Homo sapiens: one gene and its partner. The protein of the gene in region 1 interacts with the protein of each later gene in a biochemical or structural test. Each region holds a gene or a part of one and is shown on either strand. Other genes may lie near its edges. The genes, in order: EEF2KMT and EEF2.

What was found.
Region 2: of the proteins of EEF2KMT (region 1) and EEF2, one has a biochemical effect on the other in vitro, tested with the Homo sapiens proteins (one study listed by BioGRID).

Annotation. Positions count from the first base shown.
Region 1 is NC_000016.10:5,083,784-5,087,795, reverse strand, and holds the end of EEF2KMT (protein-lysine N-methyltransferase EEF2KMT), read left to right. Parts: intron 1-416; exon of another isoform or gene 417-2,063; coding exon 2,064-2,164; 3' UTR 2,165-2,914; coding exon of another isoform or gene 2,915-3,046; 3' UTR 3,047-3,512; downstream 3,513-4,012. Other genes in the region: ALG1 (chitobiosyldiphosphodolichol beta-mannosyltransferase), read right to left, coding at 2,915-3,046. UniProt on the Homo sapiens protein: Catalyzes the trimethylation of eukaryotic elongation factor 2 (EEF2) on 'Lys-525'.
Region 2 is NC_000019.10:3,982,141-3,990,153, forward strand, and holds the start of EEF2 (elongation factor 2), read right to left. Parts: upstream 3,324-8,013; 5' UTR 3,241-3,323; coding exon 3,238-3,240; intron 2,211-3,237; coding exon 1,996-2,210; intron 1,152-1,995; coding exon 970-1,151; intron 879-969; coding exon 667-878; intron 433-666; exon of another isoform or gene 367-432; intron 285-366; coding exon 106-284; intron 1-105. UniProt on the Homo sapiens protein: Catalyzes the GTP-dependent ribosomal translocation step during translation elongation.

The DNA of each region.
Region 1 (4,012 bases):
AGAGTCTGGCTTTGTATTGCCCAGGCTGGAGTGCAGTGGTGCCATCTCGGCCCACTGCAACCTCCCACCTCCCAGGTTCAAGCTATCCTCCCATCTCAGCCTCCTGAGTAGCTGGGACTACAGGCACGTGCTACCACACCTGGCTATTTTTTGTATTGTTTGTAGAGTTGAGGTTTCGCCATGTTGGCCAGGCTGGTCTTGAACTCCTGACCTCAAGTGATCTGCCGCCTCAGCCTCCCAAAGTGTTAGGAATACGGGCGTGAGCTACTGCGCCCAACCCCATTTTTGTTTAAAAACTAATAATAATCACCCACACATGGTTATGAGTACCTATATTCCCAACTCCTCAGGAGGCTGACGCGGGAGGATGGCTTAAGCCCAGGAGTTTGTGGCCACCTTGAGCAACATAGCGAGACTTCATCTCAAAACAAAATTTATCACAATAATCATTTTCACATAAGTATACCTATAGGGGAAAACCTAGAATATACATATAGCAGTCTTGTCCAACTTGCGGCCCAACGCAAATCTGTAAACTTTCTTCAAACAGTACGAGGTTTTTTTGTGATTTTTTTTCTTTTAGCTCATCAGGTATTGCTAGTGTTAGTGTATTTTATGCGTGGCCCAAGGCGATTCTTCTTCTTCCAGTGTGGCACAGGGAGGCCAAAAGATTGGACATCCCTGATATACACATTAACAGGTGCCATCCTTGGATGGCAGGATTATAGAGATTTCTACACATTCATGTCTGTACTACTTCATTCTTATAAATACGCATTTTCCACTCGTAACAAAAAACTGTGATTGAAAATCGTCCCGGGTCACAGTGTCTCACGCCTGTAATCCCAACACTGTAAGAGGCTGAGGCTTTGGGAGGCTGAGGTGAGCAGATCACGGGAGGTCGAGTTCAAGACCAGCCTGGCCCACATGGTGAAACCCCATCTCTACTAAAAACACAAAAATTAGCCAGGCGTGGTGGTGCACGCCTATAGTCAAAGCTACTCGGGAGACTGAGGCAGGAGAATCACTTGAACCTGGGAGGCGTTGCAGTGAGCTGAGATTGTGCCACTGCACTCCAGCCTGGGGAACAGAGTAAAACTTCGTCTAAAAACAAATAATAAAAGAGGCTGAGGCAGGAGCATCACTTGAGGCCATGCGTTCAGGACCCCATCTCTACAAAATAAAAAAATTACTGGCATGGTGGCACGCACCTGTCATCCCAGCTACTCAGGAAGTGGGAGGATTGCTAGAGCCCAGGAGTCGAGGCTGTAGTGAGCAATGACTGTGCCACTGCACTCCAGCCTGGGTGACAGAACAAGATCATATCTCAAAACAAAAAAAAAGAATCATTCTGGCTAACGGCTCTTCAGACATCTGTGCTTATGAGAACAGCAGCCCCTTCTAAGCTGTGTGTGTGTGTGGGTGTGTGTGTGGTGCGTGTGGTTTTTTTTTTTTTTTTTTGAGACTTAGTCTCACCCTGTCACTCAGGCTGGAGTGCAGTGGCACAATCTCAGCTCACTGCAACCTCCACCTCCTGGGTTCAAGCAATTCTCCCACCTCAGCCTCCCAAGTAGCTGGGATTACAGGCACTCGCCATCATGCCTGGCTAATTTCTGTATTTTTGTAGAGATGGGATTTCACCATGTTGGCCAGGCTGGTCTCGAACTCCTGACCTCAAGTGATCCGCCCGCCTTGGCCTCCCAAAGTGTTGGGATTACAGGCATGAGCCACTGTGCCCGGCCGCTTTCTAAGCTTTGTGAAGAGTGGGTTGACTATTCAGATCTCTGCTTCTGTCCCGCTGTGCCAAGTGCTGGGGCAGACACAGGCAGAGAGTGGACAGCGGCACGGTGCCTGCTGCTAGCCATTTCTATGCAAAACCAGCTTTCTGGTCCCATCCTGGAGGCCAATTCTAGGCACCTGGGTGGGCCTGGGAACCTGTGAACCAAGTAAACTGACTTGGACACCCCCCTACCCCGCCAGGCCTGTCCTAGCAGCCCCACACAATACCCTCATGTCCTGTCCCCAAACACCGCCATCCTCAAACACATGTGCTCTGTTTCCAGGCCGGGCCGGGATCAGATGGGAAGTGGAACCTCGTCATGAGCAGAAACTGTTTCCCTACGAAGAGCACTTGGAGATGGCAATGCTGAATCTCACCCTGTAGGACTCACACACGACTCCAACGGGATTGTGAGAATCAAGTCACTCTCATGGGAAGAATTTTTATATGGGAAAGCGGATAAAACTTTCATTGGACTGGAATGTTTGGAGAATGTTAATTTCCAAATCAGGAACCACAAACTGCCCTCTAATAAGACATCGGCTATCTAAGCGTGTGGGTGCCCCCTTTCTGCCAGCAGTTCTGGTTCTTAAGAAAATCACCATAAATCAGACATGAAAATTCTGGCTCCAAAAATAGCATTTTCTTTGTGCAAATAAAAACGTGTGTATCAAGTATGATGTTCCCCCAACGTGGACACACTCAGTTCCTCACAAAGCCAAGCCCACTGCAGCTGCCACATCCCTGGGCTTACGGTGCAGCAGGTGCTTTTTTCAAGACAGGAATCAAAATGTTAGGAACACGGCAGAAAGGGGACACCTGGAGACCAAACGCAGGATGAGGAGTTCTGCAGAGGTCACAGGGAAGTCACAGAACAGTAATACGCTAGCAGGGGCATGGGGCGTGAAGAACAGAAGAAGAGAGGAAGCGTTTCCAAGCCTCCAGAGAAGAAATCAAGGCCAACCAAAGCTTCCCGGGTCACAGAACCAATTCTTTTACCAGGCAGTACCACTGCTGTCATTTCAGCTTCTGGCCACTGGGAGGTGCTGCTCGAAAGGGTTTGCCCTGAGACTCCAAGAAGAAGCTGCGGGAAGGACAGCAGGGGTCCTGGGGTTTTAGCCTCTGGCCCAGGAGTTATGTGTCCATAACCAAAGGGAGCACAGTCTGCACCCAGCTCTCATCCCATCGGAGCTGCTGCGACTCCCGCAGGTTCTTCCGGAACTGGTTTAGCTTGCCCGCAGGATCAGGAAAGTTTGAGAAAAGCATCTGCAAAAAAATAAAGAGCAGAGCTTACCTCATTGCCTGTCCCCACCCCATCCCAGGTCACCACCTGGCTGACCCCAGGTCCCCGACCCAACAACAACCCCTCCCAAGTCCCTAACTCCCTCACTTGGACTCGAGACCCTTCACACCCCAGCAGCACTCCGCCTCCAACTTGACATCACAGTTTCTGGAAACTTCCCCGCATGTCCCACTTTCCCACACTTGGTGCCCTGGAGCACCTCCCGGCCTCTACGTGCTGCCCATTCCCCTGTGAGCACCCTCCTCTCGGCCTCTGGCCAACGCAGTCTCACCCATCTGTGGGTAACAAGGGGGTGTCGGTGTTCTTTGCAGCCTTGCTAAACTGTCTGAATCAAGGATCACAAACTACAGCCTGCAGGCCAAATCCAGCCCACAGCCTGTGTTTGTAAATAAAGTTTTATTGGAACAAAGCCACACCCCTTAATCTACAGATGATCTGTGGCTACTTTCACACCCCAACAGAGTACCATGGTTCTGACAGAGACTGGGGAACCCAGTCTAAACGACTTCCGACCTGGACCTTTACTGAAAATCCTGCCAATCATTCTGTTGGCAAGAATGATGTATTACTTTTTGCAATAAGAAACAAGTAACCTTTGCAGAATTCCACCCATCTTTCAAGGCTGGTCCCAGAAGCTCCCTTTGCCCGCCCACCTACGTGATCCTGATCACTTCCTCAACCGCAGCCCGGCCCACCCAGCTCCAGCATCATTTGTGGAGTGTCAGCTCCATAAATCCAGAGGGCAGGTGGGGGTGTGTCTTAACTTTCCCGAGCCTACTGTACCGAAACGGGACAGCAGAGTGGGCCAGCCTCTGTGACCTCTGCTCCCTCCCTAGCTTTTCCGCCAGACCCCACATGGTCCCACCCTGGCTGTGGGAAGCAGGGATCAGGGAGCCTGGCTCGGTGCCAGTCTCCAGAACCCTCCCCAC
Region 2 (8,013 bases), on another chromosome or scaffold:
GACCTGGTGGGCTTGAGCCACGCTGTGAATAGCACACCACGCCCCTACGTCGCTGCCACTACCCCCAGGTGTCAGGAATCCCCCACCATATCCCGCGGGGCTCACCTGTCACCCCACAGCTTCTTCATCATGTCCTCTACTTTCTTGGCCCGCTCGGCAGGCCCCAACTGGCCCTCCCCCTTGGCGGCGAACTTGGCCACATACATCTCGGCAAACTGCTTCAGGGTGAAGGCCCACCCGTGGAGGCCAGACCCAAAGCCCACGGTACCGAGGACAGGATCGATCTGGAAGTGTGAGAAACGAGAAGCAGCCGTGAGGGCCCCTGCGCAGAGCCTGAAGCTACGGGCTGGGCGCCTTGGGCATGGGCCTCAGACGCAGGCTTTCTTCAGTAGACATCTGGTCAAAGTGAAGAAATGATCAGTCATCACGAATAGGGGGGCCAGCCCCTCCACCACCCAGGGCAGCGTTCCCTGAGCTCGTCTCTTCCAGCTGCCCAAAGATCAAGGGCTGGGTCAAGTCGGATGAAAACATTCCAGCCCCCTTCTCTGTCACCCAACATTCCTGGCAAAAACACACTTCCAGTCCCCCTCAGCTCAACTCCACTCCCCACCGGCTCCTGCAGATCCCGCTGCGGCAAGCCCACCACCCAGCTAGGGAGGGCCGTACCATGATGTTGCCCATGGGGCCGCTCTCGCCCTCGCCGTAGGTGGAGATGATGACGTTCACGTTCTCCACGATGCGCTGGAAAGTCTGGTAGAGCTCCTCGGGCTCCAGCTGCAGCTCCAGCAGGGCGCGGTCCATCTTGTTCATCATCAGCACAGGCTTGATGCGCTCGGCAATGGCCTGCCGCAGCACTGTCTCCGTCTGCACGCACACGCCTGGGGACACGGGGGACAGGGCGGCGCTGTCATCCTCAAGCAAGGATGGCCCCCGGTTCCAGGCCGTGCCTCAGGGGGACCCACTGCTTACCTGACACGCAGTCCACCACCACCAATGCGCCATCGGTGACTCGGAGGGCAGCAGTCACCTCCGAGGAGAAGTCGACATGCCCGGGGGAGTCAATGAGGTTGATGAGGAAGCCGGCACCGTCCTTGCTCTGCTTGATGAAGTTCAAGTCATTCTCCGAGAGCTCGTAGAAGAGGGAGATGGCACTGATGGAGGGAGGGACTCGTCAGGGGGACAGGAGCCACACACCTGGCCCAGGGAGTCTGGGATGCTGTCAGAAGCCAGGCTGCTCCTCCCTCCATGACTCATCCCTGGAGAGGCTCCCACAAGAGCCAACCCACCCTTGTCCTTTGCCTCTGTCCGAGACATGCCACCCCCATGACAGGGAACTCCTGGTACCAGCCCCATAGCCAGATCCTCAGAGCCCTCCTGACCAGACATCCTGCCCCACCGACTTGGTCCCAAGATTCATCACACCTGACTCAAAGTAGCAACTAAAAGACCCAGCAGGACGGCAAAAGCCTCCAGAGACTCCGACCCTCCCCTCCTCACTTCTGCCCCTGCTCCAGGGGAAATGAAGAGCCTTAGCCAGAGTCCCTCACCAATGTACCAACCCAGGACAAAAAGCAGTTGGGGTCACCGTACTCTGCGCTCCCCCTACTCATATCGGGGCCAGAAACTGACATGGAATGAACATCATCCAGTGCAACACAGGAGCTTCCCAGCGTCCCAAGCACTAGAACACCCTCCCCTCCCAGGTGTGACAGCCAAACCTCTCCAGATATTGTAGGAGTGGGGGCAAGTCCCCCAGGGAGGGAGAACCACGGAGTTAAGCCCCCTCCTCAAGAAAACCTTCCAGCTCGCAGTACCCCGAATCCCTGTGCCTCTCCATCCTGTCTCGCTGGACTGAACCTCACTCATTCTCCCATGAATTAAGAAACCAGGGGAAAGAGACGTTGCCAAGTCTCTCCCCGCGCACCCTGGCCCAGTGGCCTCCAGCTGCCAGGCCAGCACCTCCCTGCCTGGGTACAGAGGGCACAGGGAGCTCACGTTGACTTGATGGTGATGCAACGCTCCTGCTCGTCCTTCCGGGTATCAGTGAAGCGTGTCTCCCCGGCCCGGGCCGAGGCGATGATGCCCGCCTTGCACACCAGGGAGTCTGTCAGCGTGGACTTGCCATGGTCCACGTGGGCGATGACAGACATGTTGCGGATGTTGGCCTTCTTGTCCATGATGGCGCGGATCTGGTCTACCGTGAAGTTCACCTGGGCAAGACAAGGAGGCTCAGACCAGCTCGTGATTTCCAGGAACACAGCATGGCACGGAGCGTTCAGTCCAAACGAACCAGCATGCCCAAGGCCAGGAGGGGGTTGGTGCTGGGGTGCCCCAAGCCCACCGAATCTTGCCAGCCTAACACCCCTTAAGAGCCACCCCGCAATCTCCAAGGAACCACCGTTAATAGGTGTCATTCATGATTGACAACCCAGAAATAAAAGTGCTCAGGAATAAAACTGAGTGTCAACAGATTTCCTTGATACCAGGTACAAATACTAAAGTCTCATTTGGGGCCAAACACGTAAGGGATGAATCCTCTCCTAAAGCCCCCTCCACGTTGTCACCGGGCCACCCAAACTTCCCCGAGCAAGAAGCTTCATCATAAAATGCAAGGTCACCCCTTGGCAAACGGGATCAGACAAGGCCACCCACCCCAGGAAATAACGGGGAGCCGGAACGGCCCTAACTGCCACAAGCCTACACCTCGTGTCTCAATAAGAGTCTTTGTACATCTGGGAGTCATAGGAAGGACAAGTGCCTAAGGTCGACGATTAACAGCATCAGGAGAAGGTATTTGGAAGGAAAAGGGGAGCCTTTCAGGTGTCGCTTTGCTCGTTCTGCCATTCCCTGCCGCCCCTAGTCCCCCGGCAGAAAATCGATCTCAAACTCGCGGCCCGCGGGTTACATAAGGCGCCTCCCTGTCTCCCCGCTTCCACCGCGGTGCCCGCCATTACTACGCCTGCCACATCATCATTCCCCACCCCCATCCCCGCTAACAACCCAGCTCCAACCAGGTCTGGGCAAGGTTATGGCGCCCTCGGAAACGGAGAAAGGGCTCGGTGAACAGCGCGGCGCACAGACATGGCGGCGGCCGCTTCCCCAGCCCCGGGTCCTCCGGCCCCGCCGCCGCTACGTCTCCTCCTGGCACGGGGGGCCCCAGCGTCCCAGGCTAGGCAGCGTAGGCCCCGCGGAGGCCCCGCCGCCGCTCCGGGGCACCAGCGAGGCAGGGTTACTCACCATGGTGGCGGATGGCGGTGGATTCTCCCAGGTAGAACCGAAAGAAGCGAGTCGCGCCGAGGATGGCGGCGACGACGGCGGAAGAGAACGCTGACGTCAACACTCAGCTTTTTATAGGCGGACGCCGGTTGGGCGGGTCATGTGACTGCGCTGCGAAGGCGGGGCGAAGGGACGCCGCGCAAGCGCACGGAGGCGTGTCCCCCCGCCCGTTAACCCATTCGGCGCCGGCGCGGCGCTCTAGAATAGAAGCTGGGCATCTCGGGGGCGGTGGTCGCCCTCGGTGTGCAGTGTTCAGGTGCACAAAGTAAAGAGCGCCGTTTTAGCTGAGAACGAGAACCATAGCAACGATATTAGCTTACAAGTTGTCCAGTACTTCTATTAAAACCAATTTACAAGGTGAATAGAGTCTGTGGATTATACCCAAGTCAATTTCCCTGTTTGGACATTGTTACGTAAGACGATACCCCTGGGAGAAGCCGAGGGAAAAAGGACACTCGCGACCACTATACTGTTTTTGCAACTCCTTACCTGTAATTATTTCTAAATAAAAACTTTATAAGAAGCAGGCATCGGAATCACTGATCCCACAAATGCATACTGAGCATCTATACACCAGGCATTGTTAGGGGTTTTGTAGATATAGCAGTGGACCAAACACCTTGCTAGCTTGACCACACTGCGTGTTCTTCTACCAGCTACTAGGATTTCTCTGTGCCTCAATTTCACCTGCTCGGAGGTGATCAATACCACCCTATTGTTTGGGGGAGAGTGAAACGAACTAAAGACATCTAAAAGAATTAGGACCGTGCCTGATACCCAACGCTCAATAAACGCTATCTATTTTAATTAGCTAAGATTGCTATTAATAAAACAGTTATTTATTTCAGGACTGGTTTGCCATGTCCCAGGCACCCGGCTAAGCGGTTTACTGGCACAATTTCATTTTCTATTTCATTTCCTCTCCAGGGGGAGGCGCAGGAAGACTGTTTAGCATTTGTGTCCTAATCTGACCCTAAGAAACAGTTGAATGTATTTCATATCTCATGAATTGGCATTCAATTGTGTAACTCTATCCCTTATGAAAAGCCCAACCCGCTGTTTAGCACATAGTAGGTACTCAGCATTTCTTGCATGAATGATGTTCTCACAGTGCAAATGAACCCCCTGCGGTACATCTTTCCTTAAACTCACTTTGTGAAACAGGAGAGCCACTGCAGTGCTTTTCCTGGGCTGGGAGAGGGGGAGGTGTGGATCCACAAAAAGCAATGCAAATTCCAGCCTGGACTCTAAAATAAACCTGTACACTCCTCCCCCTCACGAATGCTTCGGGCACTTTGCTTTACAAAGCGCTGTCTCAACCTTGGGTTTCATTTAACGGATGATTGCTCTTCCTATCACCATTTAACCCAGTGGAAAACTGAAAAGTATCTTCCGAAAGGATTGAGGCTCTGAAAGGCAGAGGGCGCGGCAGGGAGCAGATGGGAGCGCCCGGGGTCCCTAACCACCTACACCTGTACCTGTGACGCGTTTAGTTAAGTTGCAAGTCAAGCGCATGCGCCATTTGGGGCATGAGTTTTTAGCAGAGGGGTAGTCAGTTTCGCATTATTAATAATAAAATTCTTCAAAATTTTTAAATGCACTGAGCACCTGCTACGTGTTGCGTTTCCTATTGGGGGCTTCGCAGCCGTTTTTTCCGTGCAAAGTGGGAGCATTTCAGAGATGTAATGGAAAGGTTTTCATTAAAAGAGGTGTCAGGCGAGAGGCGGAGGTTGCAGTTAGCCGAGATCGCGCCACTGCTCTCCAGCCTGGCGACAGAGCGAGATTCCGTCTCAAAAAAATTTTTAAAAATTTTAAAAATTAAAGAGGGGTTAGGCTGCTTGCGGTGGATCACGCCTGTAATCCCAGCACTTTGGGAGGCCGAGGCAGGCAAATCACCTGAAGTCAGGAGTTCGAGACCAGCCTACCCAATATGGAGAAACCCCGTCTTTACTAAAAATAAAAAAATTAGCCCGGCGTGGTAGTGAACGCCTGAAATCCCAGCTACTTTGGAGGCTGAGGCAGGAGAACCGCTTGAACCCGAGAGGCAGAGGTTGCAGTGAGCCGAGATCACGGCACTGCATGCACTCCAGCCTGTGCGACTGAGAGTAAGACTCTGTCTCAAAAAAAAAAAAAAAAAAAAAGGAGGGGGGGCTGTTCACAGGTATCCCGGAACTTAATAAAAGAGGGGTTGAATTTCTTCTCAAGTGCATGGGTTGCTTATTGAAAAATTCTAACATCATGTAATTTAAAGAACTAGGGGGAGAGCTTAAGGGAAAAAGGGGAATTTTCAACCCCATAACTGCAGGGATGGAGCCAGGTGTTGGCAGGGAAGGATCTCTCCCACTGTCATCCCCACATCCATGAAGAGCAGAATCCTGGAGTACCACAAGCAGCCACAACCAGGTCAGCTGTAATAAGTACAATAATAAATATACGCTGGGTCTTTTAGGGTGGGGACCAATAAAAAAATTCACCTCTGCAGAGAAGCTCCGCTGCGCATGCGCCTGCTGCGGCGCCAGGAGAGCTCAGAGACCGCAGTAGCGGCCCCTGCTGACCGACAGTCGCCAGTGCAGGCCTCTCGACACTGCCTTTTTTTTTTTTTTTTTTTTTTTTTTTAAGACCAAGTCTCGCTCTGTTGCCACGCTGGAGTGCAGTGGTGCGGTCTCAGCTCACTGCAGCCTCCGCCACCCGATTCAAGCGATTCACCTGCCTCAGCCTCCCGATTAGCTGGGATTACAGGCGCCTGCCACCACACCCGGGTAATTTTTTTGTGTTTTTAGTAGAGACAGGGGTTTCACCATGTTGGCCGGGCTGGTCTTGAACCCCTGACCTCGTGATCTGCCCGCCTTGGCCTCCTAAAGCGCTGGGATTACAGGCGTGAGCCACCGCGCCCGGCCAACACTGTCTTTTAACAGTTTATTGAGCGTTTACTAGGACCTGACCTCACGGTCCTTTAAATCAAATACTTCAGCTAACCTACCCACACCCTGGGCTTCGGGTGGCCTCCTTTACGCCTGAGAAAATGGAGACTCAGATAAGTTAAGTCATTTGCCCACGTTCACAGAGCTAGTAAAGGTGCAGCCAAATCCGACTCAAGTAGTGGTTTAATCGGGAAGGAGCCCGGTCCTGCAACCGTTGTCTAGATGCATTTCAGATTTGGGAAAACGGGCCGGGCACGGTGGTTTATGCCTGTAATCCCAGCACTTTGGGAGGCAGAGGCAGGCGGATCATGAGCTCAGGAGATTGAGACCATCCTGGCCAACATGGCGAAACCTTGTCTCTACTAAAAATACAAAAAAATTAGCTGGGTGTGGTGGCACGTGCCTGTAATCCCAGCTACTCGGGAGGCTGAGGCACGAGAATCGCTTGAACCTAGGAGGTGGAGGTTGCAGCGAGCTGAGATTGTGCCACTGCACTCCAGCCTGGGTGACAGAGAGAGACTCCGTCTCAAAAAAAAAAAAAAAAAAAAAGGCCGGGCGCGGTGGGTCACGCCTGTAATCCCAGCACTTTGGGAGGCCGAGGCGGGCAGATCATGGGGTCAGGAGATCAAGACCATCCTGGCTAACATGGTGAAACCCCGTCTCTACTAAAAATACAAAAAATTAACCGGGCATGGTGGCAGGCGCCTGTAGTCCCAGCTACTCGGGAGGCTGAGGCAGGAGAATGGCGTGAACCTGGGAGGCGGAGCTTGCAGTGAGCCGAGATCGCGCCACTGCACTCCAGCCTGGGCGACAGAGCGAGACTCCATCTCAAAAAAAAAAAAAAAAAACAAAAAACGTGGTGGCTCACGCCTGTAATCCCAGCACTATGGGAGGCCAAGGCGGGCAGATCATGAGGTCAGGAGTTCGAGACCAGCCTGGCCAATATGATGAAACCCCATCTCTACTAAAAATACAAAAATTAGCTGGGCATGGTGGCAGACACCTGTAGTTCCAGCTACTCGAGAGACTGAGGCAGGAGAATTGCTGGAACCCGGGAGGTGGAGGTTGCAGTGAGCTGAGATGGCACCATTGCACTCTAGCCTGGGCAACAGACCAAGACTCTGTCTCAAAAAAAAAAAAAAAAAAAGTGGATTTTGTCTTTTAGATGATTAAACAAATGGGTTCAGGGAGGCCTGGTGAGTCTGTGTAGTAAGAACAGGCGCAATGGCTCACGCCTGTAGTCCCAGCACTTTGGGAGGCGGAGGTGCGTGAATCACTTGAGGTCAGGAGTTGGAGACCAGCCTGGCCAACATGACGAAACCCCATCTCTACTAAAAATACAAAAATTAGCCGGGCATGGTGGCAGGCGCCTGTGGCCCCAGCTACTCAAGAGGCTGAGGCAGGAGAATTGCTTGAACTCAGGAGGCCGAGGTTCCAGTGGGCAGAGATCACGACACTGCACTCCAGCCTGGGTGATAGTGGGAGACTCCACACCCTGAAAAGAAAGAAAAAAGGCCGGGCGCAGTGGCTCATGCCTGTAATCTCAGCACTTTGGGAGACCGAGGAGGGCGGATCACAATGTCAGGAGTTAAGACAACAGCCTGGCCAGCATGGTGAAGCCCCGTCTCTACTAAAAATACACAAATTAGCTGGGCATGGTGGCGCGCCTGTAGTCCCAGCTACTCGGGAGGCTAAGGTAGGAGAATCGCTTGTCCCCGGGAGGCAGAGGTTGCAATGCGCCTAGATCGCGCCACTGCACTCCAACCTGGACGACAGAGCGAGACTCCATCTCAAAAAAAAAAAAAAAAGAAAAAGA